2 separate regions of the Homo sapiens genome follow, and region 1 is linked to region 2. Evidence: fine-mapped expression QTL. A gene starts in region 2. The other region holds a variant in brackets. All regions are shown on one strand. Distances are between the middles of the regions. Region 1 has its middle 8.0 kb from the start of SKIC8. Region 2 holds the start of DNAJA4 (DnaJ heat shock protein family (Hsp40) member A4).

Evidence for each region.
Region 1: its variant is fine-mapped to the expression of DNAJA4 in blood mononuclear cells (TOPMed, PIP above 0.99).

The regions. Positions count from the first base shown.
Region 1 is chr15:78,300,015-78,315,249 of GRCh38, forward strand. No RefSeq gene overlaps it. Among named protein-coding and RNA genes, the nearest start is that of SKIC8, 8.0 kb to the left of the region's middle. RefSeq lists an enhancer at 1-727. The variant G/A (reference allele first, on the strand shown) is at 8,212.
Region 2 is chr15:78,256,305-78,271,539 of GRCh38, forward strand. DNAJA4 (DnaJ heat shock protein family (Hsp40) member A4) reads left to right here and starts at 8,258. Exons shown (of 7, transcript NM_001130182.2): 1 at 8,258-8,591; 2 at 14,193-14,373. The coding sequence starts at 8,460. It overlaps DNAJA4-DT (DNAJA4 divergent transcript), which reads right to left and starts at 7,840. Exons shown (of 4, transcript XR_001751621.1): 1 at 7,753-7,840; 2 at 7,568-7,653; 3 at 1,213-1,437. RefSeq lists silencers at 8,112-8,191, 8,502-8,791.

The sequences.
Region 1 (15,235 bases), 44 kb after region 2:
TTTTGAGGGCCAGGCAGAGTAGCTCACGTCTGTAATCCCAGGACTTTGGGAGCCGAGGTGAGAGGCTTGCTTGAGCTCTGGGTTTCCAGACCAGCCTGGGCAACATAGCGAGAGACCTCGTGTCTACTAAAAATAAAAACAATTAGCACATGCCTGTAGTTCCAGTTACTTGGGAGGCTGAGGCAGGAGGATCGCTTAAGCCCTGGAGGTTGAGGCTACATTGAGCCGTGATGACGCCACTGCACTCCAGCCTGGGGAACAGAACTAGACCCCGTCTCAAAAAAAAAAAAAGAGATGGGGCTGGGTGTGGTGGCTCATGCCTGTAATCCCAGCATTTTGGGAGTCGGAGTGGGTGGATCACTTGAGGTTAGGAGTTTTGAAATCAACCTGGCCAATATGGTGAAACCCCGTCTCAAGTAAAAAAAAAAAAAACAGAAACAAAAACAAAATTAGCCGGGTGTGGTGGCATGTGCCCGTAATCCCAGCTACTTGGGAGGCTGAGGCAGGAGAATCGCTTGAACCCTGGAGGCAGAAGTTGCAGTGAGCACAGATCACACCACTGCACTCCAGCCTGGGCAACAGAGTGAGACTGTCTCGAATAACAACAACAAAAAAAGATGGGAAGAGGCTCATGCCCCATTATGGAGGCCGCCCTGTGGCTCAGATGTGGTGGCTCACTCCTGTAATCCCAGCACTTTGGGAGGCCAAGGGGGGAGGATTGCTTCTGGCCGTGATTTCAAGACCAGTATGGGCAACATGGCGAGACCCAATCTCTACAAAAAATTTTAAAGTTACAGACGCAGTGGTGTGCACGTGTAGACCCAGCTGCTCAGGAGGCAGAAGTGAGGATCACTTGAGCCCAGGAGTTTGAGGCTGCAGTGAGCTATGATTGGGCCACTGCACTGTAGCCTGGGTGACAGAGTGAGACCCTGGCTCTAAAAAATATTTTTCGAAAAAACTAGTTTTGAAGTTCAAATATATATATAGAGAGAGAGACGGAGGACTATTAGACCACTTACAACTAGGTGAAGTTCATCTTTGGGGGCTTTTTTTTCTTTTGAGACTGAGTCTTGCTGTGTCACCCAGGCTGGAGTGCAGTGGCGCAATCTCGGCTCACTACAACTTCTGCCTCCTGGGTTCAAGTGATTCTCCTGCCTCAGCCTCCCCAGTAGCTGGGACTACAGGCACCCACCACCACACCCGGCTAATTTTTTTTTGTATTTTTTTTTTTAGTAGAGACGGGGTTTCACCATGTTGGCCAGGCTGGTCTCAAACTCCTGACCTCAGGTGCTCCACCCACCTCTGCCTCCCAAGTTGCTGGGATTACAGGCATGAGCCACTGCACCTGGCCATCTTTGGGGGCTTTTTGAGGAGGCTATGTGTGGTGAGAAATTGGCAAATACACCCACATCTCCCAGGACCTATTCTCTTGTCCTCAGTAATCTCACATTAACACAAAAGAGAAGACATCCTGCAGCTCTTCTGCTGCACACATGACTTCCCTGCATGCCAGCATCCTTAACCCTCAAGTTCACATGTTTCAGAGTGATATGACTAATTTTTCTCAGTCACATTGACTGGAGAGCTATTTCTCTCCTTCCCAGCTCTGTGACATCTCTGTCCATAGAAATTTCATCCAGCCCCAGTGGACCCTCTGCATGTCACTGGCTTAAAAAGTTTGGGTCAAAGTGAGCAGACTTCAAGACTGAATTGTCAAAATTCTTATGTGGCATCTCTTATAAGTCAAGATATCCTTGTAACCATTCTGGATCTATTGGACCAGGGTCAGGCATGTGCCCCTGAAGCTAAGGAAGAATGTACAAATTATATCATGAAGCCAGTGAGCTGATTTTCAAACTTAGATTGACTTAAGTGCTGACTGGTGTTCGGGCACATTCCACAGAGCTAAATACACAGAAACTGACCCTGCAATGGCTGGGATGTGGGTTCCTGAAGTGTGGAAAGGAATTAACATTAGTACTACAAAGCAATGGCTTTTAGCAGTTAAATGAGTGACCTGCTGCCTTCCTGTATAACCAGTTGCCTTAGTTTTGGCCAATCTGCTGCTTTGTTTTTGTTGGTGACATTTACGGGTTTTTGTGGGTTTTGGAAATAGATTATTATGTAACCTCTCCCACACCGAGATAATTGGGCCATCTTCACTCTAACTTTTAGCTTTTGAATATGAAGAAGTATTTTTGAAAGACTCCTACTTTAAGAAGGGTGAAATTTTGGCTGTCAAAAGTGCTCACAACTGTATGACTAAGTGAATTTTAATTTGTGTGATCTGGGGTTATGTAAGGTTTTTTTTCTTTTCTACACATTAACTTTAAATACCCCACCTTCAAATTATTCTAAAAGCACACTGATCACATTTATGCCTTTTAACTTAAAATTTAATTAAAATTTAAAATTAAAAAAGCATAAATGTGATCAGTGTGCTTTTAGAATAATTAAGCCAAATACTAAGGCTTTCCATTTCTGTTTACTTGCTCCCAAATCTGCTACTAATAATTTTCAATTGAAGCCAGTTGTTTTGGATAAAAATTCAATTAATCATCTCAAAAAAGAGAAATGGAATACATTAAGAAAGAAGTAGAATAGAAGATATAAGAGTGCATCATACATAGTAAAGTTACATCATGTTTTATAAAAACTGTTTCACCCATGCGGTTACTGGGTCACAAGTGAAAATCCATTTCTTGCTATGAGTCATGGCCAAACACTTTGAAAATCATTGTAATAAAGACTTTCTAAAGACTTTCCAGCTTTATAATTCTATAATTATGACAAGAACTCCAAACCATTCATTCAAAAAGGATGTATTAAGTACCTACTTTCACCACATTCCCCCAGAGGGCCAGACATATGGGATCATTGGCATGACCTTAGCATTGGGACTATAAAGCTAGAATAATTGGCCTTTTTTACACTGTGGACGTCTCAGGCATCTGATGAAACCAATGAATCCTGTCCCAGAACAATGGGGTTTTTTGGAAGAAAAAATTTTAATTGCTGTTGCAAAAAAACATCAGTATGGAGTAGAAATTGGTTTCTATGGCATTATTAGAGAATATGTTCTAGAAAGTGGAGGTAACTGGATGTAAGATTCTGGCAGCAGTTTAATAGATAACAGTCCCAGATGTTTAGGTTGAGGCCAACGCCTAATTAGGGTGAACGGTTTGTGCGTGTGTAATTTTGGACAATATCTGGAGAAAGGTTACACTGTGCACAAACCAAATTTAATTTTTTTCACAAGTGTTGTAAAGTTTCTTATAATAAAAGGTTTTTGCTACATGCACTTCATTTTCACATTAAGAGTGTTTAGAATACCTAGACACAAAAGAGAGCATTCATGCAAGATATGCTACTCCTTGATATAATAATGCATACAGTTCAAAATGTTTACCCTTTTTTTTTTTTTTTTTTTGAGACAGAGTCTCGCTCTGTCGCCCAGGCTGGAGTGCAGTGACGCGATCCCGGCACACTGCAAGCTCCGCCTCCTGGGTTCACGCCATTCTCCTGCCTCAGCCTCCTGAGTAGCTGGGACTGCAGGCCCCCGCGACCACGCCCGGCTAATTTTCTTTTGTGTTTTTTTTAGTAGAGACGGGGTTTCACTGTGTTAGCCAGGATGGTCTCGATCTCCTGACCTCGTGATCCACCTGCCTTGGCCTCCCGAAGTGCTGGGATTACAGGCGTGAGCCACCGCGCCCGGCCACTGTTTACACTATTGTTGCAGTAGCTGCTGCCATCACCGGGCTGCGGCAGGGAGGCACAGCTGGGGCTGCATGCTGGTGGATGCCTCCCCCTTCTGAGTTGGGGAGAGCTCCCCAGGTGCTGCTGCAGCCGCCCAAACAGCAGTTGCAGATCCAGGCCTCCTGCTTTACGGAGCAGGCAGGGTCGCCACCCTCCTGGGCGGGGCTACAACTGCCCAAACAGCGGCTGTGGATCCGAGCCTCCCGGTGCTCTTGGAGGGGGCTGGGAGCAGGCAAGATCTGCCCTCCTAGGTGCAGGACCCAGAGGGTCTCTGCAGCCTGCACCCTCGTGGACCCCAGAAAGGACCCCACCGCACCCCGTCGCTAGGGGGTGTCTGTTCCTGCTGCCTGGCCTCTCTCTGCTGCCGCCCCTGCTCTGATCATGGAGCAGGGCTTGGGGCCAAGCCCCAGGGGCCATGAATGACAGTAGGAGGCAGATCGATTCCTGGGCAGAAGGGGGTAGGTCTCCAGTAAGGCCCCACCTTCAGGTCAGGGAGGGACTGAAGACTGGGGACCAGGCTGCCAGTCCCACAGACCTGAGTGGGAGCTTGTGGTGCCTCCTCCAGGCTCACCCATGGCCGCCCATGGGCCAGTCAGCACACACTTCCTCCCTTCTGAGGTCCATAAAAGCCCTGGGCTCAGCCAAACTGCAGGAGAGGATGGAGAGACAGCGGGAAGAGTAGCTGTAGAAAGGAGCTACCCTCTCTGCCAGAGCTGCAGAGACCTGCAGAGCCTTTCAAAGGACCTGCGGAGAGGAGGCCCCCCTCCTCCTGTAGAGACTTCCAAATGACCTGAGGAGAGGATCCCCCAGAACAGCCTCCTTCTCCAGGAGCACCCCCCGCCAGGATCCCCTAGAGCAGTCCCCCTCTCCAGGGTTGGGTCTTCTCTCTGCTGAGAGCAGCCCCCCTCTACAGGGTGAGGTCTTCTTTTTGCTGAGAGCAGCTCCCCTCTCCAGGGTTGGGTCTTCTTTCTGCTGAGAGCAGCAGGTGGCAGGATAACCAGTGGGCAGAGGGGGAGCTACCCTCTCCAGGCCTCCTGTCTGCTGAGAGCTGAACACTCCATGGGATGACTTGCTCAGAGGAGCTACCCACTGCGGGTCTTCTCTGAGCTGCTTAACACTCAGTAAGTTCTTCGAGTACCTCATTATTCCTGGACACAGGACAAGAACTCAGGCAAAGGCGCTCCCAGGAAGAAAATCAATACCTCCCACACCCGTCCAAAGATCCCGTAACACTACCATTACATCTGAGGCTTTCTGCAACTACAAGGGGGTGGTGGAAAGCTTGGCCCTCAGTATCAACATCAAGAAAGCAGCTACCACCGTCTCTGCCTGTTCTCTTTTTGCATTTTTTTCTTTCATTTTTCTTAATCACCTCTGCTATTGCTGCTGCTTAGCAAAACTGGTAAAAACAAAATTGTAATCACTGATGCATCACCCAGATAATCCTCAAATTCCTGCCAGGGAATCCTCTCAGATTCTCTCCAGCGTGCTGTAAAAACCACCGAAGTCATTTGGGCCAGTGCTGGCAGCAGCCCTCCTGAGTCTGAGTTCCCACTCAAAGGTCATGAGATCACAGAACAGCCAGGTGGGGCAGAATAATGTTTTCAAGTACATAAGAACAAGCCACATAGGATTACAAAGGAAACCAATTATATCAAAGTAGTTATCAAAATATTTGTGAAACAGTAGTATATGTGCTTTATTAATGCAGCATGTCTAATATCTTCTGTTATTTTATTTTTGAGACAGGGTCTCGCTCTGTCACCCAGGCTGGAGTGCAGTGGCGCAATCACTGCTCACTGCAGCCTCAATCTTCCAGGCTTAAGCGATCCTCCCGCTTCAGCCTCCCAAGTAGCTGGGACTACAGGCATGTGCCACCATGCCCGGCTAATTTTTGTAATTTTTTTTTTTTTGGTAGAGAAGAGGTTTTGCCATGTTGCCCAGGCTAGTCTCAAACTCCTGGGCTCAGGTGATCTGCCCACTTCAGCCTCCCAAAGTACTGGGATTACAGGCATGAGCCATGGCTCCCAGCCTGTTCTGTAATTTTAAAGTAGCAGTGAGCATAAACAATATTTAGAATTACTTGCAACAGCTGCAATGTGATACGAAAATATTTGTGATTTGTATTGGTGACAAAGTCACAGGTACTACTAATACTCCTAGATTTATTGCATACATTTATAATTAAAGAAGATATTAAATTCCAGTTACAGTTTAAGGGAAATAAAGATATAATTATTTTCCTATCAAAGTTCACAGATCCACGGAATGCCCATTGTAAAGCAAATCTGGAGAGACTTGCCATTGTATGTGACATTTAAACATCTGTAATTAGAGTTCTGGTCTTCCAGGTCAGGAGGAAATGAAAAGATTTTAGAATAAGATAGGTAAACATCCAGGCTAATGATGAAGTAGCTCCAAGATGTAAGGGCTGCCCTGAAAAGCTCTACAATTCATAAAGAGGCCAAGGTTGGGAGGCCCCCTCTAAGGCTGCAGCCCCACAGGGACATAATTGTTCCCTGAGTCATTCACTGCCTTTCCAACTAGCCCTGCATAGAGCAGACCCACAGAGAGGCTCAAGCAGGAAGAATGATACTAGGCCACAGTGTCCCAGGACTTACCCCTATACTTCTCCTCTCCACTCAGTCACAGGTCCAAGCATTTCTGAATGAAGAAGAACCTCACAGATCTATCTCATACCTCTCTCCCTCTATACAACCCCACCATGGGATCATCCAGCCTCTGTTTGAATACCTCCAAGGACAGGGAGCTCACTACCTCCTTGGGAGGAAGAGCTGCCTCCGCCCCAGTTCCGGGAAGGCTTACTTGACTTCCCGGGAAAGACATGAATCAGCAGGTCTGGAGAGGGGTGCAGGCAAAAGTCCTGCTCTCTGCTCAGCACAGGGAGAAGGAGAGGGAGGTCCATGGGCCACATCTGCCCTGTGTAGAGCTCTCAAGGCTCTCCTCAGAACCCCAGCTGGCAGAGTCTGATGTCAGGGACCCCACCTGCCCTTTCTGATGTTTATCCCAGGTTTCCTCTCTGGACCCCACAGCTGACACCCGACTCTCCTTCTTCCTAGTCCCCCTCTTCCCTCCCCTCCTGCGGGCCACAGTGTCTCATGTGGTGCCCCTCTCCTTCTACAGATGCCACCCTCACTCTGCCCCACAAGCTTCCCCGCTTTCATCAAGCAGCACCTCCTTCTCTCCTCCATGCCCCACCAGATAGGCCCCAGGCGCTTTTTGTTTCCAGTTTTGGCACAAAGGGGTTAAACAACTTGGCCTCTAGAGCACAATGCCTGGGCTCAATCTTGGCTGCTCCACCCAAGGCTCTGGTAAATTATGTAACCCCACTGGGATATCACTAAAATGGGGATAATACTAGAACTTTCCTTTTAGGGCTGATATGAGGATTAATAGAGTTAAAATATGTAAAATGCTTAGAACAGTGCCTGGCACAAGGAAAACACTCAATAAATGCCAGCTAGGATTACTCTTACAATTGCCATTCTGGGACGTCTCAAACATACAGCCCACTGTTAGGGAAGGCCCTGAAAGCCCCCAGGTCTCTTTTCCTCACTAGCTTGCCAGATGGCTAAGGGTATTTACATCTCTGAAGTTTATAGCCAGGGCAACTTCCAGACTTCACCCAGCAATCAGCCACTCTGAGCATTTCCTCACAAGGAAACTTCTAGAAAGTTATGCCTCCTCTTTTCTAAAGCAGTGACCACATGTACCTATTATTAAAAATTTATTACTGGCTGGGCACGGTGGCTCATGCCTGTAATGCCAGCACTTTGGGAGGCCGAAGCAGGTGGATCACTTGAGCTCATAAGTCTGAGACTAGCCTGGGCAACATGATGAAACCCCTCCCTGCAAAAATGTAAAAAAGGTTAGCTAGGTGTGGTGGCACATGCCTGTGGTCCCAGCCACTCAGCAGGCTAAGGTAGGAGGATCTATTAAGCCCGGAGGCAGAGGCTGCAGTGAGCTGAGATGGTGCCACTGCACTCCAGCCTGGGTGACAGAGCAAGACCCTCTCTCACGAAAAAAATAAATTAATTAATTAAAAACAAAAAATTATCACCATGCATTCTCCTGTGTGTACATTATTTATAAATATATATGTATTTATACTACTATAATATTTATGTACATTATAAAACAAATATAAAAATAGAAGAGGGACAAGATAAAAATAAATATCAGAAGATCTAATATTTTCTTCCTATACTCCAGACGGTCTTGCTCACTGTCTGGGGTATACACATTCCACTTTGGAGACACTAATGTCTTCAAATTTTAATTTTGGTTTCAAACACTGGGAGAGCTGTGATGGTGGATGTATGGACTGGGCCACGCCCTGAGAAATAACTCTCGCTAGTGCTACGGAGGAGGGAGTCACCCTGTTTCACACAGAGAAGGAAACTGACCCTGAGAAAGGCGAAGTGGCTTCTGCAG[G/A]GTCATTCAGCCAGCAAGGCAGAGTAAGGATGGAAACCCATGCTGAATTGGGTGTAGCTGATTTTTTTGTTCATAATTCCACAGTATTAGGGAGGGAAAGCGGGGAAACAGGAGCTCACAGGAAAGAAAGGGGTATGGAGAGGGTGAGGGCAGGACAATTATGGGGCCAGAGGCGGGAGTCTGGATTCAAATCCAAACCCACAAGGACACATCACTCCTTTCTTCAGCTGGTCCATGGATACTGAATCAGGGAACCTCTTGGAACTGGCTTCCTACCCTGCAATCAGGGTCCTTGACAGTCCCCAGTCGGGAACACAGACCACCACAGTGGAGCCACTAGCCAGGGGCTTTACCACGGCTGGCCAGAGGATGGCAGTCACTGCCTACGCATGCCCACTTGGCTGGCGCCGCTGATGGAGTAGCAAGTACCTGCCCTCCTGGGCTCCTCCAGACTCCGGAGGCAGTGAATTCCTGCTCTTGAATCATTATGGGACCCCTCGTAAAGGCATCTTAGACCTCAACTTCCTCATCTTGAAAACAAAATTGTTAACACCATGGTCTCAATCCCTAGTGGTTTTCAAAAGTGTGGTTCCCAGACCACAGTTGTAGATTCTGGAAGTGAGATCCCCAAGGGAGTTACAGCAGAAGGAAGAAGCCAGGGAGAGAGCATCCTGCCCAGAAGCAGCTGAGGCCTCCCATCCTCTGCACATACCTGACTGAGGGGCTGCATCCTGCGAGCATGGCCTGGGGGACTAAGTTCTTTGCACCCAGCAACTGTTCAGGGTGGGGTTTCAATTCGCTTCACCAGCTGCTGACCAGCGGTTGGTGGTCACCTTCAGTACTTGGCTATTCTGCCAGGATCCACCAACTGGACCTTTTTGGGGCCAGGCTGGGGATACTCAAAGGAGTTAGATGAAATCCCTGCCCTCAAGGAGCTCACAATGACTCTTTCTCACCAGGACTCTAAGCCATCTTCAACCAAGATCGACTTTCCAGCGGAAAAGCCCTAGCTCCTCTGATTCTCCCTACATAAGAGGTGTAGGAATTATGTATCCCCATTTTATAGAAAAGTTGGCACAGGGAGAGCACGTGGTTAATCCAGAGCACCTGGTAAAGCTGTGGTGGAGTAGGGAGCAGAACTCAGACCCCTTGAGTCCTCATGCAGCCTGACTCTCTGCTCTGAGCAGGCTGTGGGCATGGCCCAGAGACCGGATGGGCCAATCCAGGGCCTGAGTCCCTCCGCTGTGCCCACATCCTTCAAAACTGGGCAGGAACCAGGAGTAGACTCACCCCACACTGGGGGACTGAGTCATACCTCTCGGGGACCCAAAGTGCAACCGAAGGGAATCAGGTCCTATGTGTGGAGAGGGGACAGGGACCGTGAAGCCCAGCTGTGTATGAAATTCTGCTGTAGTTGGGGATCATGCCATCACTTTCTGGACATCGTTGGCATTTACCTATTCACATAGGAGGCAGCAAAGTCAGGCCAAAAAAGATGGCTGCCAAGGCACTTGAGAGTGTAGGAGGGTGAGCCAAGGAGGCCAGGGTGGTGGGCCTGCCAGGAGGAGGCTGTAAGCCTCTGAAGGGTGGCAGGAATTGGGTATGGAAGCTGTGAGCTAGTGCCACTGTCTGCAATGAATGAGATAGAAGAGATTGGTAGGTGAGCATGATGACGAAGGAAAAGGAGGTGGGGTCTTAGTCTGTTTTGTGCTGCTATAACAGAATACCTGAGACTGGGTAATTTATTATTATCATTATTTATTATTATTCTCTCTCCTAGGCTGGAGTGCAGTGGTATGATCTCAGCTCACCGCAACCTCCGCCTCCCGGGTTCAAGCGATTCTCCTGCCTCAGCTTCCCCAGTAGCTGGAATTACAGGTGTGGGCCATCATACCCAGCTAATTTTTGTATTTTTAGTAGAGATGGGGTTTCACCATGTTGGCCAGGCTGGTCTTGAACTCCTGACCTCAGATGATCCGCCCACCTTGGCTTCCCAAAGTGCTGGGATTACAGGCCTGAGCCACCGTGCCTGGCCAAGACTGGGTAATTTAGAAAGAAAAGAAATTTCTTTTCTCACAGTTCTGAAGGCTGGGAAGTCCAAGATCAAGTTACTGGTGTCTTATAAGGCCCTTCTTACTGTGTCATTCCATGGCAGAAGGCAGAAGGGCAAGGAAGGGAGAGGGAGAGACAGGGTGATGGGGGAAGGCGAGGAGAGACAGAGACAGAGAGAGAGAGAGAGAGTGCAAGAGGGGCTGAACTTGTCCTTTTATAAGGAACCCACTCCCACTATAACAGCATGAATCCATTCATGAGGGTGGCATCCTCACGGCCTAATCAGCTCTTAAAAGTTCCACCTCTAACACTGTCACTTTGGGGATTAAGTTTCCAACACACGAACTTTGGGGGACACATTCAAACATAGCCAGGGGTCTGCCTGGATGGTGAGAGTCTCAAAGGGGCAGAAGGAGGAGAATCAGGGGTTCATGGTGTGCTGGTAGGTGTTTAACAACAGGCTCTTCAGAGAAAAACCCTAAACCTGGCTTATAGCATTTGCTGATTTCCATAGTGTAAATACAGCTCCCATGGGCTATTTCTTTTATTTTTGAAATGGAGTCTCACTCTGTTGCCCAGGCCCAGGCTGGAGTGCAGTGGAGCTATCTTGACTCACTGCAACCTCTGCCTCCTGGGTTCAAGTGATTCTCCTGCCTCCCGAGTAGCTGGGATTACAGGCACCTGCCACCATGCCCCATGGGCTATTTCACGCCACGGACAGGAAGTTGCTGACCAATATGTACAATCTGCTCTGGTAAGCTGGTATGTACCAGCTCCAGCATCCCCTTGAGTGGTTCTGTTATGTTGCTGGGGGTGTCAGTCTCAATCCAGGTGTGCACACCTGCAGTGTCCCCTCCAGAGGCTGCCAGGAACCGCTGTCCTCTACAGAGAGCCAGCTGTGGTGACAGCAAGGTTGGAATAAGGGACCGTGAAAGAGCTGAAAATATAGGGATTTTTATTTACAAAGTTGGTGGTGGGGTTGGGGGGAGGTCAAAGGATTGAGAGCCAGGTGGGAAAGGCAGGACTGCAGGGAAGTGCTGACCCAGAGGGGCCTGCACTTGGGAGGCAAGGGGGCAAAAGGAGCTCTAGGAAGAGAACTCACCGCCGTGAGGTTTCCAAAAGAACCTGGAAATCCCTTCCTGCCACAGGTTAAGCCCAGGATCTCTTGCCAGGGTGAACAGGTGCTGGCCCCAAGCTGGTAAGCTTGGGAAAGTCCCAGGACTCCTGTATCGAATGCACTTCTGAAGGACAAAGGGAATTCAAGAAGCCAAAGGTAGCTTTAGAACAGCCTCACCACAAAGCTCCTTCCACACACTGCCCTTAACTCAGAGAGAGAGCTGAGGTCCAGGCCCCCCATTAGATGTGAGTCTCCAGTGCATCCTGGTGCCAGAGCTGGCATATCCAGGTGAAAGCACTGCTTTTACTCCTTGACTGCCATTGCACTAAAATTAATAGCAGAAGAATGAAAGCATGTGGAGACCTTGCTGTGCAGTTACGCCCAAAGTGCCCCTGGAGGCCGAGGGGCTTAGCAGCCAGAACACGGAACCTCACATCAGGAGCCATTACTGTTATTGTCACTGTTGATATCATTCCTAGTTTTGATCATTAAGTGTGTGCCAGGCATGAAGCTGGCAAGTCACCCAGATGGCCTCAGGAACCATCTCTGGCTCTGAAAGGGAGACTCTCTAGCCTGCCTCTGCCTGAACCCTCTCTGGACCTCAGTTTCCCTAGCTGTCTGTCCCGTGAGTCCATTGGCTCTGGGACTCCTTCAGTTTTTGTTTTGAGACAGAGTCTTGCTCTGTCACCCAGGCTGGAGTGCAGTGGCGTGATCACTGTCACTGCAGCTCAAACTCCAGGGCTCAAGCGACCCTCCCACCTCAGCCTCCTGAGTAGCTGAGACTACAGGTGTGCACCACCATGCCTGGCTAATTTATTTTATTTTTATTTTTGTAGAGATAGGGTCTCCCTGTGTTGCCCGGGCTTGTCTCAAACACCTGACCTCAAGTGAGCCTCCCGCCTCGGCCTCCCAAAGTGCTGGGATTACAGGCGTGAGACACCACGCCCAGCCTCCTTCCAGTTTTGACCTTCTGATCCACTTCAGCTGTTCTTGACCATGGTGTCCTTCCCACTGACTTGTCACATTAGCTGTGAGCTGCCTGTGTCACACGCGATGAAGCTGACTACTGCATAGGACAGCTTATGTGCATCACGTCACATCTTCTCAGCCTCTTCTCTCTTAGTACAGCCACTACCCTGGGGTCCGTTCTGCACAAGTTTCAACCAGCTCTGCCCAAGCGTGAGCTGACAGCACCTCCCCTCCCCCAGTCTCCACCTCTATCTTCCTGCCCTGGGAATCACTCCACATTCACCCAGAAGAATTGTTGCCTGTGGGACAGCCTTGACCAATGGGAGATTGAAGCTGATGAGTAAATATTTCCCCCTTTGGCCCCTGAGGGACAGTTCTGAGATGCTTGACACAGGCCCTTCAGCGCTGGTGGCCAACTCAGCAGTGCATCCTTGATCTGGCTTTTGCTTCTTCCTTTGTTCCGCCCCTGCCCCTCACTCCTGCTCTCTGGGATTGAATTCCTAAGACAGCTCCCTGCTTGGGGTCTTTGTCTCAGGCTCTGCTTTAGGGGGAATCCAGGCTAAGACAGTTTCCAAGCACCCATGATTGCAAATAATCCACTGTTTTGATAAATTCGGCCAATTTTTTTTTTTTGGTGTGCAAATAAAGTTCTCATTCCCTTGCCTTCAGAGATGATTTCTTGAGGGGTGAGAAGGGGTGTGGAATAGGGACACTCCAAAGAGCCTTTTGCAGCCGTCGGGAGAAGGCCAGGAACCAGGGGACCTGTTGGAGGCTGGGAGGTCAGTGAGGGGCCTGTGCTGGGTGGGCTGGGGTGTCTGTGGGAACTCATCACATTGGTGTAGGGGGTAACTGCTATTGGGGGTGTCTTGTGCCTGAAGAACTGAGTTATTCTCTGAGCAAAGCTCTAGATGTAAAGAAACTGACCCAGATCCTCCACGGACTTCAATTCCAGGCTCCTGCCAAATCAGTGGGGAACGGGAAACCAAGTAATAGAGGCCCCTAGACTGCAGAATATCCGCTCTGAGCACTCAGTCAGGAGGACAGGGATCCTGCCGAGCTGAGGTCCTAGAGGAGAGGCAGTGTTTCGGGGGGATGAGGAGGTCATACTCCACGGAATGGCTAAAAAATAGCAGCATCCTTGGCCTGCAGAGACCGGGGAGGCAGAGGCGGGGTGGGTGCTGGGCCTGCTGGGCAGACCTCAGTCAGGCTATGCTGGTCCGAGGGAATGCATATAGTCTCTGACCTCGAACGGGGCCAGGCTCTAGGGACAGGCCACAGAGAAGCACCTGGACTCATAGGAAGAAGGGTCTTTCTCACAGGTTGAACCATGCCACAGGAGTAGGGGCTGCCTTGGAGGTATAAGCCTCCAGTCCCAGGGGATGTACAAGCCACAGCTGGACAGCCAAATGCAGGGCAGGCAGAGTGGGCCCCAGCAGCACAGTGTGGTGCCCCAGCCGCCCCTCAACACCAGCCTGCTCCTGTTGCTGAGCTGTGGTCGGGAGGACTGCAGAAGACTGAAGGAATCTTCGAACCAGGACAGCTCCAATGCTGGACTCCTTCACCCTCCGATATCTACCCAACCCACAACAGGATCTCCGCCCTGTACCTCCCCACTCTCAGCAACCAGATCTTGGGGGCTTCTGCTGTGCACAACTCTAAGATCCAGGCAGCATCCTATGGGCTTTTCAGGGCTGTGGGCTGGCGTGAGGCCCTCCTCTCTGGCCTCAATGCTCACACTCCTTATGATCTGCCTCCTCTCCCATCAAACAATGTCCCTCCTTTGTGAATCTCCAAATCCAGGTGGCCATCCAATGCCCTGGGAATCCTTCTCCGAGGCCCCAGCCCTCAGCCATCTCAGTCCGGGGTTCTTCACGGGCTCTTTCTATGCTCCTCCTGTCGGGTCCTGGAGTGGAGATGGACAAAGCCACTCTGAGAGGAAGGAGGGGGAGCCTCAGGATTAGATGCACTCGGGTGACAGACTAGCGGGGTCTCTAGATGCTGAAGGGAGGTGACCCAGCCCCATGACCTAGCTCCAGGACATGTAACTAGAAAGGGGCTCTGGGGAGCAGGGCAGAGCAGGCTGGGCTCCGGGCCCAGGGCTGTTGAAATTTCCATGACCACCAGATTAAGGCCACCTGGGTGAGGCTACTCCTACAGGAGGAGCCAAAGGGACCCAGTTGTGGGAGGGGCTGGAGGTAGAGATTCAGAAGGGGAATGGAGGGTCTTCAGCAAGACCTGCGGGGAGGTGGGCTGTTTCCCTCTGCGCTGTGCCTCTCTCCAGGGGCCAAGGGGCCTGGTGGCTAATGGGCCTCCCCACTCGGGACCCACTTTGACCTGCGCTTCCTGGCTGAACCTGGGCCTCTGGAATTCTCTGTCTGTTCTCTGGTCCCCTCTTATCCTTGTCCCTAAGCCAGGAGCATGCCCCGAGGTTGGGTTCTAACCTGGGCTCAGCCACTTGTAAGAAAAGTAACTTTAGCTATTGAAACTCTGTTTTCTTATCTGTATTTTTAAAAATTTTAGTTTTTATTTATTTTGTAGAGACAGGGTCTCACTGTGTTGCCCAGGCTGGTCTTGGACTTCTGGCCTAAAGCGATCCTCCCACCTTGACTTTCCAAAGTGCTAGGGTTACAGGTGTGAGCCACGTGCCCAGCCTCACCTGTAAAATGAAGACAATTTCTTCTTGGGTCTGTTACGAAGATTAATAAGACAAGGACTCAGCAGCACTTAGCGCAGTGCTTGGCTTACAGAGAGTGCTTGATAAACGGGAGCGAATAGTGATAGGATCATTGCTTCCTGTTTTGAGTCTTTCATTCTGCTGAAAGGTAAGGTCTCAGGGAAGGACATGGCTGACCTAAGATCCCCAAGAGGGCCAGGGCAGAGTGGGGA
Region 2 (15,235 bases):
TCCCAGGAGGGAGTATCTTTTTGAGGGGTAATTTTTTGTGACAACAACGACAGTAACAATAAAAAATGGAACCATCTGCTCATCCAGACTCAGTAAAATTGGCTTGAATGCCTCAAATTTGACAGCCCACAGCACTCCAAAGCTTTCCTCACAATCCTGTGCATTCTCTGGGGCAGAGGGTTCCATGGCCCCCTCTGCAGGTGTTCACCCCCTCCTTCCACGTTCACTCTACCCTGCACACACACCCACACACACAAGCACCAAATATTTGTGAGTTTAGCAGACTGAAGATGGGCTGGGGTGGTGAGGAGACAGGAGGGCCTAGCAGGCTCACCTGATTCAAACCTATCTTCATCCTGCAGGCTCTTCTCTCTTCCCTCTCCCTCCTTTTCTTTTCTTTTTTTTTTTTTTTTTTTGAGACGGGGTCTTGCTCTGTGGCCCAGGTTGGAGTGCAATGGTGCTATCTCGGCTCACTGCAACCTCTGCCTCCCGGGTTCAAGTGATTCTTCTACCTCAGCCTCCTGAGTAGCTGGGATTACAGGTGTGCACCACCACACCCAGCTAATTTTTGTATTTTTAGTGGAGACAGGGTTTCGCCAGGTTGGCCAAGCTGGTCTCGAACTCCTGACCTCAGGTGATCTGCCTGACTTGGGCTCCCAAAGTGCTGGAATTACAGGCATGAGCTACCACGCCCAGCCCCCTCTCCCTCCTTGCTTCTTATTTTTCTCCCTCTTGAGAGCCTAACAAATTCCTTTCCCATGTCATGCCAGGAAGTTTTGCCATTATCTTTTAAGACCCTGGCCTTAGAATCTCAAATACCTTATCAATGTATTTTTTCCAAAGATAGTTCCCATTCTAAGAACAATTGAATGCCAGCTACTTAGAAGCACATTTAAAAATGTGACTCCACCATCATCATAATAGAATTGCAGTGTTTTTCTGCTTCTGAACAGATTTCAGGCTACTTCTCTCAACCTTCCAAGCTGGTGAACAGCACCACACTACTCTGACAGTGCAAACAGCGCTCTGAGGACTTGGAGCCAAGAAGGGTAAACTGAGTTCAGACCATGGAAAAACTTCAATGCCAGGGGAAGGATTTGGATTTCATTATTCTACTCAGTGATCCATCAAAGCTTCCAGAGTAGGTCTATGACTTCTGGAATGCAAGGAGAGTGACTGGAGAGGGCTAGGCAGAGGATGATGAGGGCTCACCTTAAAGCCAAGACAGGTCTGGGAGACTCTAAGGAACATCCACAAACTTTAATAATGGGGAAGGAGTGACAGAGGAGAGATGAGATGTCTCCAGGCTGGAGCCTGAGTATCTGAAGATGAAGTCAACTTTCCTTCCTGGTCTGGAATAGTCTGTAATTTTCTAGGCACCATACTTAACACCGGCCACTACTGCTGAGATAGGACTGGCCGAGGCTGAGGAAAGATCTGAAAAAAATCATTAAGTGTAGCTTTTACTGGACACACACACAAGGCACCCTATAACAAGGCACCCTATAACAGTGGCACTATTATGGTAAGTGTCTCAGCCAAGTTCCCCTGAAGGGTTTTCAGCCTCCCACCCTATTGGGCTTTTTGTATTTCCAAATAGAATCCTTCTAGGCAGATGCATGTATGGAGCTCTTTGTATCAAATAACAACAATGGCCAGTATTTATTGAACACTGTGCCAAGCACTGTCCAAGAGCTTTTCATCCTATAATTTATATACACACGTGTGGGTGTGTATACACACACACACACACACATAACCTTTTATATTCCTCACAACCCCCTGAGGTAGGTATTTTTTTACAGATAAGAAATTGAGGCAGAGAAGTTAAGTAACTTGCCCAAGGTCACGCAGCTAAGAAGTGATGGAGCCAGTATCACAACTGAAGCGCTGATGGGTTTATTTTCTGGAAAAAAACAAACTAGGAGACAGCAGAACAGGCCTGTGGCCCCAGCTTAACTGCAGACCAATACAAGCTTGAGCAGGCTTTTAAATATATACTCTTTCATGAGGATATTTTTGGGAGCAATAGATACGCTCACGTCTCGATTAAGATGGTGGTTTCATGGGTATATACATATATCGAAACTGATCAAGCAGTACACTTTAAATAGGTGCAATTCATTGTGTGTCAGCTGTTTTTATAAACTTTTTTTTTAAAAAAACTGATAGCTATTATATGATGGAATTAAAATATTTGTAATATTTCTACAGTAACTCTCAATTATCTTATGAGACTCCATTACGACATTCAAGCATATAAAATCCATGGTTCATTTCTGAATCTAAGGACTGCTTTGAGGATTTTGCTATGCCTCAGAGGAGCAAAATGTCTCCAAATTGAAACTGAGAGCTACAATGACTCAAGAAATGTTTTATAATCTGGCATTACTGAAAATAGAACACAAAGTATGCAAAGATGTTGTCTGTAACAACATAGAGATATTGCTGAAATAAAGTTAAAAAAATAAAATTTATGAAATAAATATACAACAAAAATTTTAAAGTACACCCCCCACCTTTGCTGCCCTAAGGATAAAATCCCACTCTGCCCTGAAGGCCATGCCCCCTCTCCATCACTGTTCCAGAAACACTGGTTCCTTTCTGGTTCTTCACACCTTGCGGCCTTCACACGTGCTGTTGCCTGTGCCTAGAACTCCCTAACCCGAGTCCTGCACGCCTGGCTCCTTCTCAACCTCCAGGATTCATGCGAAGGTCATCTCCTCCTTCTGACCACCCAGAATTCAAAAGGACACTTTTCCTTTGCTCCTACAGTTAGAGCTTTATTTCTAGATTTTTTCTTGTCCTCTGTGTGGGGGAGACAGGATCTGTTCCCCGGTGTGCTCCAAAGCCTCTTGCAACACTGGACACAAAAGGCACTTTACATATCTGTTGGAAGGATGGAGGGATGTCTTCTCTCTGGACTCTGGGACCTCAAAAGATGGGTGCCCTGATGAGAAAACCTCAGAATTTTGTCTCTAAAGCCCAAATATGTGGCAGGATGACCACTCCCTCACTTTCTTAGTTTTTTTCTCCCCAAACAGAGGCAGCCCCAACCTCTGGTGACAGCAACTCTGGGTAAAGGCCAAGTTCCAGGAAGAAGTGACTTCTCAGAGACCAGGCCCTAACCCACAGGAATGTAGCCAGGGGCTCAGGTTTTATTGTTCAAGCAAGGTGGCAACGGTTAACTACTTCAGTGTGAGTTCTTAGAAAATTCTATGGGTTGGAATGCTAGCAAAATCAGCCCGTGCTAGGGGTCACCCAAAGTGGTTGGAGTCAGATGTTGAGGTGCAGCTAGTCTCTGAGCTCCTCGAGGACAGGCATAACCTTAATCTAGTGCTGTATTGTTGGTTCCCAGCACAGAGCCAGACACATAGCTGCTGTGCACAAATCCTGTTGTGATGAAATCAATAAATTTCATCGTGAGAACACGTGCTTTCTGCACATGGTAAGCCCTTTACACATTGTCTCCATTCATCTGTACAATAATTCTGTGAAGCAGATGTTCTTATCCCCATTTTGCAAAGGAGGAAATGGATGTTCAGAGAAAGCTAATTTGCCCAGGGTCACACAGCCAGTGAGGGGCAAGGCCTCTCCAAGTGGAAATCCCTCCCAATATTAAAACAATGGCCTGAAATGACAACTGCTGTTTCGGGGGCCAATAAATTAATGTCCTCCCCTTGAAGTACTGGTCCCCCCCATTCCCAGCCTCTCTGCCACCCAGGCACTGTCTCCTCTACCCCTCGCTGCTCTGGCCTTGCATGATTTTGGTCCTCTCTGCTTTCTGGGTTCTCCTCTTGCTTCTCCGATGGCTGTTGCTCCTTCCACTTCCTAAAGACAGGCGCTCCCCAACGCTTTTCCTTGGAGCTCTCTTTCTCCTTCTATGCCCTCTCTCTGGGCTTGCCTCTACAAACCGGCATGCCCAGCTTGGGCCTCTCCCAGGAGGTCCAGATCCACCCAGCCCCCGGGGTCTGCTGCTAGTTACACCTCTCAGAACGCAGGTCCTGCTCTGAAACCTTCAATGGCTCCCCAGGGCCCAGGAGAGCAGCAAACTGCTCCTCAAGGCATTCAAGGCTCTAGCACACCTGTCCCTGCTTCCCTTCCAATTCAGAGCCTTCATCCATCTGTGCTCTCTGCCTTTATCCTGCTGTCCGTTCAGCATGGCTGCCCTCCCTTTCCCTGCTGCTAAAGGGAGCTCTAACTTCCTGGTCTATGGCACATGTCCCTCGTCCATGAAGTCCTTCCTGACCCCCCTCCCCAGGTAGGTGTGGCTTCTCCCTCTCAGAAGACTCCTTGAAGACCCCATCCCAGCATTCCTTGGGTAAAACCTACTTCCGTGCTTGCTTTGACTCTCCTTCTACACTGGGTCAGAAAGGAAGCCCCACACTGCATCAAGGGACAATGGCTGTTCTGTATAATGTGGCTTCTTTGTCTAAAAGTCTCCCCAACTGTAGAATGAGATGGTAGAACTGGATCAGCATTTCCCAAATTTCTGTCATTCAAGTATCACCACTGTTGCTTTATTCTTGTACTACAGGTACTATCATACACTTACTATTTATCTACTCTTTTTTAAAAGAATATAAAAAGGAAACCATACATTGCTTACTGTGAGTGGAAAGTCAGTGTCACTTTTAATAAAAGTTGCAGTAATGAAAAGGTCATCATGAAAATAAACACATAACTGACAAAATAAGAAATGTCTGTGTAATGCCTCCAATCCTCCCAAGCATAATTCTGGGAAATAATCTACTAGATTGTCAGAGGCTTTGTCTAAGATAAACAAAGCTGAACAGTAGTTAAAATTGTAAGGACAGAATTTAATCAGTCATAACTATTGCAATAGGGAAAACAATCTAGTATGAACTGAGCTCAATATCGATTTGTACGAAAAGTAATTGGGCATTTTGAAAAGAACATGAGGGAATAGGGAGAAGGACAAGCAGCAGTTTAACAGAATCAGGGAAGTGAAAAATGACAAAGGGTTGGTCAGTGTAAGTGACATTAGGCCAGCTGTGTCTGCTAGCTGCCAATTGCCAAAGTTAGGATGCCGTTCTCCCAAAGAGACTGGGAGACAGAAGCTCTATCCTCAGGTGTTGGATGAAACAAAAACACAGTAAATATTTTGGCAGCCTTGAGTTTTCTCAGGCAGGCACTTTAAGAGGGGGTAGTGGGGCCAGGGTCACCTTAGGTAGGGGCCCCCAACTCCTAGGCTGCGGACCAGTACTGGTCTGTGGCCTGTCAGGAACCAAGCAGTGGCATTAGATTCTCACAGGAGCTTGAAATCTGCTGTGAACTGTGCATGCGGGGGATCTAGGTTGCATGCTCCTTATAAGAATCTAACGCCTGATGATCTAAGGTGGAACAGTTTCATCCTCCATTTTTTTTTCTTTTTTGAGATAGAGTCTTTCTCTGTTGCCCAGGCTGGCATGCAGTAGCACAGTCTCAGCTCACTGCAACCTCTGCCTCCCGGGTTTAAGTGATTCTCCTATTTCAGCCTCCTGAGTAGCTGGGATTACAGGCACGTGCCACCACACCTGGCTAATTTTTGTATTTTTAGTAGAGACGGGGTTTCACCATGTTGGCCAGGCTGGTCTCAAACTCTTGAGCTCAAGTGATCTGCCCACTTCGACCTCCCAAAGTGCTGGGATTACAGGCCTGAGCCACCACACCTGGCCAAAAATATCTGATTTTACTAGACAATCCTATTGTTATTTATTTTTTATTTTTTGAGACAGAGTCTTGCTCTGTCACCCAGGCTGGAGTGCAGTGGTGTGATCTCAGCTCACTGCAGCCTCTGCCTCCCGGGTTCAAGCGATTCTTGTGCCTCAGCCTCCTGAGTAGCTGGGATTACAGGCGAGCACCACCATCCCTGGCTAATTTTTGTATTTTTAGTAGAGATGGAGTTTCACCAAGTTGGCCAGACTGGTCTTGAACTCGTGGCCTCAAGTGATCTGCCCACCTCGGCGTCCCAAAGTGCTGGGATTACAGGTGTGAGCCACCACGCCAGGCCTTCATCATAGAATTATTGCCCACCCCCACCACCCTGTCCGTGACAAAATCGTCTTCCATGAAACTGGTCTCTGGTGCCAAAAAGCCTGGGAACTGGTGATCTTAAGGATGTGACGTTGAATTATTAGAAACTGTGTTGCTGTCTGTTCAGTCTTTATAGGCCAAGACTGAAGCCTAGTTGAGAAGAGGGCTCATAGGAGCCTGGCTAAGTTCCATCAAGAAGAGAATCACTATCAGCTTCTATACCTTAGCCCCTGCCCGCACCCCCCCACCCCCAAAAAGCATCAATATTGTGACTATATACCAGGTGTTTCACAAAGTTATGAAGTAGTTATAATTAATATCCTCATTAAAAGGTTAAGAAAACTGAGGCTCAGAAAGGTTAAGTTGTCTGCCCAAGGTTCCACAGCCAGAAGTAGCAGTGCTGGGATTTGAACCTAGGTCTAAGTCTCACTGGTTCCAGAATTCACTGTCGTCCAAAGTGCATAGCTCCATTCTATGTTTCTAGGCTCTGTCTTTAAGCCATCCCTCTCCTGCACATGCCCATTTTACGAATGCCTATGGTCCCGAGTACTAAATCTGGACAAGTATGTGACCCTGGGCAGTGGATCTCGGCTCTGGCTGTACCACCTGGGGAGCTTGAAAAACACTGATGCCTGGGCCTCACCCCTAGAAGCTCTAAGGTAACAGGTGTGGAGTGCAACCCAGAGGGATTTTTAGAAGATTCCAGGTGATCTCTGTCAGGAGCCAGGTTTGAGACCCACTGCGCTAGGAGTCTTCACAGTTATCATCCCATTTGATGCTTATAAGAGCCCTGTGAGAAAGGCAGGCAAGTGGCAATCCCCATGTCCTGCTGACGAAGAAAAGTGTTGAGATGCTAAGGCTCAGACAGTAAGATCTGGATAGAAAACAAAGTTTCTGACCTCTAGCTCTGAGTTCTCTGCCTAAAGGTTCTGCTCTACAAGGCATAATTTAAAAAAAAAAAAAGCAACATCTCCAAGAAGAGCAGCTTAATTTCTCTTGTACAGTACAAGTCACTTCTCACCCCCATGGAACACATGGAGGAGAGGTAGTACCTGCTTCAGCCACAGTACCCAAAACAAGGCCAGGGCATCCCAGGGAGGTGAGCAGTGACCCCCCTTTCTGACAAACTGTTCCCCTGGCAGAAGCCAAGGGAGGGCTAGGGGACAGGGGCCTGCAATTCTGTGATAGCGTTGGGGCCTGCTTTCCACGCCCACTTTTCTGCAACGGTTTGTGATCTGGACTCCCTGAGCACCCGTTGGGAGCTGGGGGCAGCCTAGGGAAGTCGGGACCTACTCCTGTACCCTTCCAAGGCAAGCATCCTGGGCCACCTAGCCGTTTCAGGGTCCAGGCCATGGGACCCCCTGTGCATAACACTGGGCCCAACAGCCTGGTCGGGCCCTGATGTTTGCTCACTGATGATGTGCAGAGGAGAGGGGGCAGTTTCCCACTTCTGGGAGAAGAGAGGGCACTGTCGGCCCTTGGCAGACTTGGGGGGCGTCACTGCCCATATGTGGGGGACGTCACTGCTCACCTTGAGGGACTTAAGGGTTCCCAGTGGTGGGCATTCGAGAGGATACTGTCCACATCTGGGGCCAGCAAAGGACCCCTGTACCTCAACTGGAAGGCCAGAGGTTCACCTCAGCCTTGCAGTCATGAGGCAGCAGAGGGCCCCTACCCACTCCAACCCCCTAAAAAATGCAACAATCCCAGGCACACCTTAGGCCGCAGCCTGGCTGTGACCGAACAGACGGCGGCCACACCCCCGGGGAGAGGCCGGGTGGGGACCGCAGGGCGCAGCTCTCCCAGTCCCACCCTTCGGCGCAGGGCTCCGGCCAACACAGCCCTCCAGGCCGCCTACTCTCCAGCCAGCCGGCTCCACGGACCCACGGAAGGGCAAGGGGGCGGCCTCGGGGCGGCGGGACAGTTGTCGGAGGGCGCCCTCCAGGCCCAAGCCGCCTTCTCCGGCCCCCGCCATGGCCCGGGGCGGCAGTCAGAGCTGGAGCTCCGGGGAATCAGACGGGCAGCCAAAGGAGCAGACGCCCGAGAAGCCCAGGTGAGCGGCTGGGCCGCGCCGGACGGGCGTCGGGGGTCTGGGCCGCGAACCCGCCGCGGGGCCGCCGGAACCTCCGCGAAGGTTCTAGGCCTTTGTGGCGTCACCGTCTCCTTGCGGAAGCTTCCGCCGGCGCCGAATAAAACCCGCCGCGGAGGAGCCGGTGGCTCTAGTGCGGTGGAGCCAGGCGTGGAAGTCGGTCCGGCGCGGGGCGGGGGGCGGGCGGGAGCTACAAGCGGCGGCGGCGGCGGCGACCGTGACCGTGACGCGCGAGCGGGCGGCGGGGGCGCGGGCCAGGGGCGCGGGCCAGGGTGCCGGCAGGGGCGTCCGGGGCGCTCTGACCGGCCTCGCCCGCCCCCCCCGCAGACACAAGATGGTGAAGGAGACCCAGTACTATGACATCCTGGGCGTGAAGCCCAGCGCGTCCCCGGAGGAGATCAAGAAGGCCTATCGGAAGCTGGCGCTCAAGTACCACCCGGACAAGAACCCGGATGAGGGCGAGAAGGTGCGGGGCGGCGCGGGGCACGGGCCGGGCTCCCGAGGGGCCAAGGGTTATTAAGCCAGGAGCATTGAAGGCGACGGGAAACCTGAGCCGCGTTTGTTGGGGAGGCTGTCGCCAGGCGCCTCGGGGCCAGGCCGGGCAGAGGTGGCGGGAGACCCTGGGCGCCGTGCGGCGCGGTCGGTGGAGGGCGCTTCGCCCGCGGAGGAGGCATGTGGTGCGGCACTTGGGTCCCTCGCGAGTCCCTGCCGAGCCCATTCATTCCTCCATTCGCTCCACAAGTGTTTGGGTAGCCCCTGCCGTGCGCGCCGGACTAGTTCTCATAGGGTGTGTTGGTTCCCTGTGGGAGAGGCGGCCTGGGAATCGGGAAACTGAGGCACACACAAACAGTTGTTTACTTGCTGGGAACGACTGGCTCATATTCTCTGTTGATGCATAAACCCTAGGGATGAGTGTCTTTAATCTGAGCTGGTACCTTGGACAAACGCCGTGCCTCTCTTGAGAATGACTAGCTGGATTTGTTCTGTGCACCTACTGCCTACCTGATAAAAGCGTCAGATAGTGAATAATCCCATTTTCTTTATTAAACAGGGACACGGACATCTGCAACCTGACATCAGCTTGTACTCATATTCTGGGTTTTCGGTGACAAGTGACACACAGTTGATCATAAGTACCAATCATAGACTGAAAATGCTCTGCATTTTAGAGACAGAAGTTAAAAGCTTTTCCATCCTGTTTACAGAAAGTTTGCTTTTTATCTCTAAAGAGGCTCATGACCCACCTGAATAGGTGAATTGAAGGATGAGGCATTGCAAGGAAAGGCTGCTAACCCTCCCGTTCCTCCTTTCACTTCTTGCCATTTTCTTACAAAACTTTGGTTGTTCCGCATGGGTCTTGAGAGGTGGGGCCGTTATAGTAGCTGATAGCAGTGTCACTTGGGCCACGTTTGAAACCACACCAATCACCCATGTAGCATTTAAGACCTGTGGAAACGACGCTGGAATCAAAATACCTGTCTGTGTTAGTTGTTCCAAGCTGGAGAAAGCTACTTCAGGACGGTTGGCTGAATGGCAACAGTGATGGAATATTTATATTTAGCCACATGTGCTGAATGTGGCTGTCACAAGTTTAAAATGCTTTCCTGTAAGACCATTTGTCTGTTACTCACTTGCGTTCTTTCTCATCTATATTTAGATGGCTTACTGTAGCTTTTAAAGGCACTGGCGTTTTACATGGTGCTGGTGATTCATCCACCTGCTCCCTACATTCATTGTGGTCCGCTTCTGACAGTCTCCTTTAAGGAGAGCTTGTAGGCTTCTAATTTCACATTTCAGCAAGCTGGCTAAAGACATGTGGGAAAGCCTGACCCTGGATTCAGGTCAAATCTCAGCACTCACAAGAGTAAGTTCATGCCTCTGTGTATACAGTTAGAGCTGAATATGCTTTTGTTCTGAAGCTTTTATTTTTAAAAAATTAGACTTGACCTGTACTACATATGTGTAGGTTTCACCCTGTCTATACCTGTCTGGGCAGGTTGTTTGGTTTGTTTTAAACTAATATTTATTCATAGCCAGGCACTGAGTTAGTGTCACATAAATGAGGCCCTTGGCAGTGAGGTCTGGCAGGCCCATCAGCTTGGAGGGAAGGGTTCTGTGATGTGCCCATTGCCAGGAATACTTTCCTTCCTCTACCTTCATGGAAGGGGATAAAACTCTTTAGTTCTCAGCTAAAACATCTTCCAGGAGGCTGCCTCTGCCTCATAGACTGAACCACAGGCCCAACGTGCATCCTACTTTAATGGTGATTACTTGTTTGATTAACTGTATTCCTTTAATGGTGATTACTTGTTTGATAACTGTATTACCTGCCATAATGTAAGCAGGGCAGTGACTGTGCCCCCATGGCCACTTATGGGGTGAGTATCTAGCTGTGCAGGGTAGGTGCTAAAATGTTTGTTAGCTGGCTGAGTAAATGCACTTTAAAAAATTGTGTGTAGGAGGAGAGGGCCCTATAAAGGCACAAATTGGAAGGGAAATTGCAGTGAAAGGGATATTGGGAGGAGAGTGGCAATTTAGATCGGAAATCAAAGAGGATGAGGAGACTGGGGACACAATTTATAGAAACGGCTGTAGAGTTCCCCAGAGAGAGCTCATTCATTCATTCATTCATTCATTCAACAAATACCTCCTCTTCTGGTCCCCACTGTGTGCTGGGTGCACTGTGCAGGCCTTTTGTGAGTGTGTATGTGAGTGTGTGTGTGAGTGTGTATGTGAGTGTGTGAGTGTGTGAGTGTGTGTGTGAGTGTGTATGTGAGTGTGTATGTGTGTGTAGTTCTTTTCCACTTTATCACAGGTAGAACCTTTAAATTTTTTTTTCCTCCTAAGTTCGTCACTGTATTATTAACGTCTCTTCAAAAATAGACTACACCAGTTCTTTACCCCTTGCTGGGAAAACTGAGAAGGCCGTTGAAATGTTGGTCTTTGTTTTTTGCCCTGTTGTCCCCTGTTGCTAAGCATTGGGGCACCTTGTGTTTTTTGGGCACTCTGTATGGAGTCTGTACTTCTCTGCGGGTGTTTTTTTTTTGTTTTTTGTTTTTTTTGCAAGATGCATGGGTGGTAGGTAGTGGGTCACCAAGATAGTCCCTTTTAGGGGCAATGATGTGGGGTATATTCTTGGCTATTACCCTGTTGAGATGAGTTTGGTCTTTTGGTCAATTTCATTGTAACTTTTAGTTTGAATAATAGACTTTCAAGTTCAAAAATCAGAACATAGCAAACCATGCAGAAAATTTTAGAACACAGAGGGAAACCTACCAAGTACACATTATCCTAACCACTCTGTGCTTCTTTCCAAGCTTTCCCCAGTATGATCATACATGGCCATCCTGATACATAGACATTTTGTTTTCTTGTTTCCACTTAATATTTTATTATAAGTACTTTTCCCAAGTTGTTACGTAGTCTTCAAAGCCATTTTCCCCTCAGCTGTATAGTAATCCTGTTAAGGTTCTGTGGCAAATGATCATGGTCTGAAAGGCAAGCTCATCATAGCACTCGTCTCCCACTGGGAGAAGGGGGTCCGGGCCGGGAGCTGAATTAGACTTTGGAGTGCTGGGACCCTAGAGGATGGACTCCCTACTGGTAGTTGGAACCCCCATCCCATGTGAGATCTGGCCTCTGACTGAATGTCCCAAGCAACTGGGTACTCCTTTTCCATTCTTAGATCATTCTATTAAGTCTAAATGACATGTGAGTATCCAGGGTATTTGGTGAGTGTTTCCGGTGGACGTTCCCATGAAGTTATTTACCTAGTCCTGACCTGCAGATAGACGCAGAAACTGTCTAGGGGCAGCCTGGCCTAGTTGCTTTCTGATCTGTACCAGGCACCCAATCCTTACACTCTACCTCATGTTTTCTGCTGAGGAAAGGGATAGTAGTGAATGGTACTTACTTCTTCGCAGAAATGGTATGAGAATTAACATATCAAAAGATCTAGCTGCCTTATATATGATGCTGATGTCTTTTTAAGACTTTTCTAAATTGTAGTTTTTTAGCTATTTATTAGCTATTATTATTGGTTACTTATTAGATTTCAATCAGGGATCTGTAGAACAAGGGAATTAATGCCTCAAATTCCCTTGTTCTCTCTCTCAAATTCCTTATTTCATGGCACTTTTTTTCCCTGAATATTTTTTGGAGCCAGCTGCATTATAGGATCTGTTTATCTATATATCCATATTTGTCTCTCCGACTAAACTGTAGCCTCTGGAGGGCCAAGATCCTACCTCATTTATTTATTTCTGAGTTCCCAGAATCGAGCCATTCATCTAACAGGTATTTACCAAGTGCCTTCTACATGCCAGGCATGGTTCCAGGCTCAGTTAGACAGCAGTGGACAAAACCCCCCATCTTCATGGAGCTTATGTTGCAGTGGGGGCTACAGCATAAGCAGTAGATGATGCAGCTTGTTAGAAGGTGGTTCATGATATGGAGAAATATGCAGCAGTTGTGGGGGCTGGGAGGGTCTGAGGTGGGTTTGCAGTGTTAAAGCTGGATCACCAGGAGGCATCCCTGAGAAGGTGGTCTGTGAGCTAAGGCTGGAAAGAGATGAGTCGGGAGGCCGCACCAGGCTGAGGTGCCTCTGAGGCCCAGACTGCAGAGTTGAGGAACAGCAGGGAGCCTGCTGAAACTGGCATAGAATTGGGGTGGGGACACACAGGAGGAGAGGAAAGTACAGGTGCCAAGTTGGGCTTATAGATGAAAGTTAGGACTGGCTTTTACTCCCAGTGACGTGGGCCACCTTGTAGAGGTTTGAGCAGAGGATCGACCCAATTAGTGGGCTCGAGTGGAGAACACACTGAAAGCTGGGGTGAGGAGGGCACATGGAAGACCACGGAGGAGGCCACTGCAGTGGTCCAGGCCTGAGATGGTGCCTTCAGCCAGAGTGGATGTGGTGTGGTAAGAAGGAACAGATCTTGCATGTTTTCGCATTCTGATTTTATTTTAAAAATGTCCATATACCTGCAGAAAACATGAGTGATACAATGAACACCTATGTATTCTTCACCTAGCTTTACCAGTTATAAATAAGTTGTCACATTTGTTTTATCTATTATTATTATTACTGTTGGCTAAAGATTTTGGGAGGAAGCTACCTATAGCATAACCTTTCAGCCCTAAGTGCTGCGTGTTTCTCTTGGGCACAAGGACATCCTTGTACATAACCATAGTAAAGTTATCAAATTCAAGAAGTTTAACATTGGGAACAAAGATTCACATTTCTCCCATTGTTCCAATAATGTCCTTTGTAGCCATTTTTTTTTTTCTCCCCTGTGCAGGATCTGATCCAGGATCACACATTGTATTCGTTTTTTTCTATCTTTTAATTTTAGAGTATCTCTCAATTTGGGTTTTCTGATTCTTTTCGTACAATTGGGTTCCAGTGGTAACTTTTTGGCAGGAATGCTACACATGGGATATTGTGTCTGTCTTAGGGTACTGGAGATGCAAATGTGAAGGTAGCATCAGTGGGATTTGTTGACAGGTGAGATTGGCATTGCCAATAACTGTGATATGGGGAAGACTATGGGTGGGGCGGGGCTTTTGGGGGAGGATCAGGAGTATAGGTTTGTATCCAATGTCTGGCACGTGGTTAGATGCTCACAGATGCCTGTAGTTGAATTTCATTCTAGTAAACTAGTGAAATGATTCCCATGAGGAGGTGAGCCAGTGGTAATGCCCAGAGTCCTGGCTCTATCTGGTTAGAGGTTCACCCCTGGCACTGTCTCATGGTATCCTAGCTGGTCTCGACTTCCTGTCTGGTGCAGCCGGATTAGTGAGAAACTTTCCCTCTCTACTGGCTTCTCTCCCTTATTCTTATCGTGTCCCTACCACCAGTCCCTTAATATGTTTGCCCTGTGTTTCCCACTTTACCAAAGGAGTAGGTAGACAGGCAAGTCAGATTCCAGGTAGAGGATGTATAGACTGGCTAGTTCAAGGGTTTGGGGGCAGAATACCTCTATTACTTTGTATGTTTATATGGCAGGTTTGCTTAACAAAACAACTGAAACTTCTCTAAAAATCTCTCTCTCTCTCTCTTTTAAAGTTTAAACTCATATCCCAGGCATATGAAGTGCTTTCAGATCCAAAGAAAAGGGATGTTTATGACCAAGGCGGAGAGCAGGCAATTAAAGAAGGAGGCTCAGGCAGCCCCAGCTTCTCTTCACCCATGGACATCTTTGACATGTTCTTTGGTGGTGGTGGACGGATGGCTAGAGAGAGAAGAGGTAAATGCTTTTAAAGAAACATAAATAAGTTGTATGGTTTCCACAATTATACGTGTTGTTGGAATCAGGATAGATCATGCTTTAAAAGGATATGATTGGGCCAGGCGCGGTGGTTCATGTCTGTAATTTCAGCACTTTGGGAGGCCAAGGTGGGAGAATTGTTTTAGGCCAGGATTTCAAGACCAACCGGGGCAACATAGTGATACTCCCCATCTCAAAAAAAATAAAAATAAAAAACTTAGCCAGGCATGGTGACTCATGCCTGTAGTCTCCGCTACTTCTTGAGATGCTGAGGCTGGAGGAAAACTTGAGCCCAGGAAGTCGAGGCTGCAGTGAGCTCTCCAGCCTGCACGGCAGGGTGAGACCCTGTCTCAAACAAACAAACAAACAAACAAAAAACCCCACCAGGTACAATTGCCATGTTTTGAGATCATTAACTTTAAAGAGTTTATCACTTGTCTAGTGCTCAGGCTACCTGGAAACTCTTGGTAAATTTAGTAATTATCTGACACCCTCCAATACCATATGAAGTAGCGAATGGAGTGGTGGATAGAAAAGAGGAAGGTGAAGTTCATCGTGCCTTCTTTTCCTCTGTTGTTGGGGTCAGGCACCAGAGTGTGCTGAGGGATGTAGATGACGCCGCCTGTGGTTGTCAGTGATCCTTTACCGAGAGTGTTCCTCTCTCCTCTTGCCCACCCTCCCTTTGTGGCCCTCCATGTTCCCTGACCTGGGCGTGGGCTGCAGGCTCTCTAATTCTAGGTGGGTACTCTTGCCATGTTCAGTATGGCCTCATTTCCCAGCCTGCTCAGGGGATTTTCTAGGCAACAAAATTCATCTCTTTATGTTTTGAAATCTTTATAAA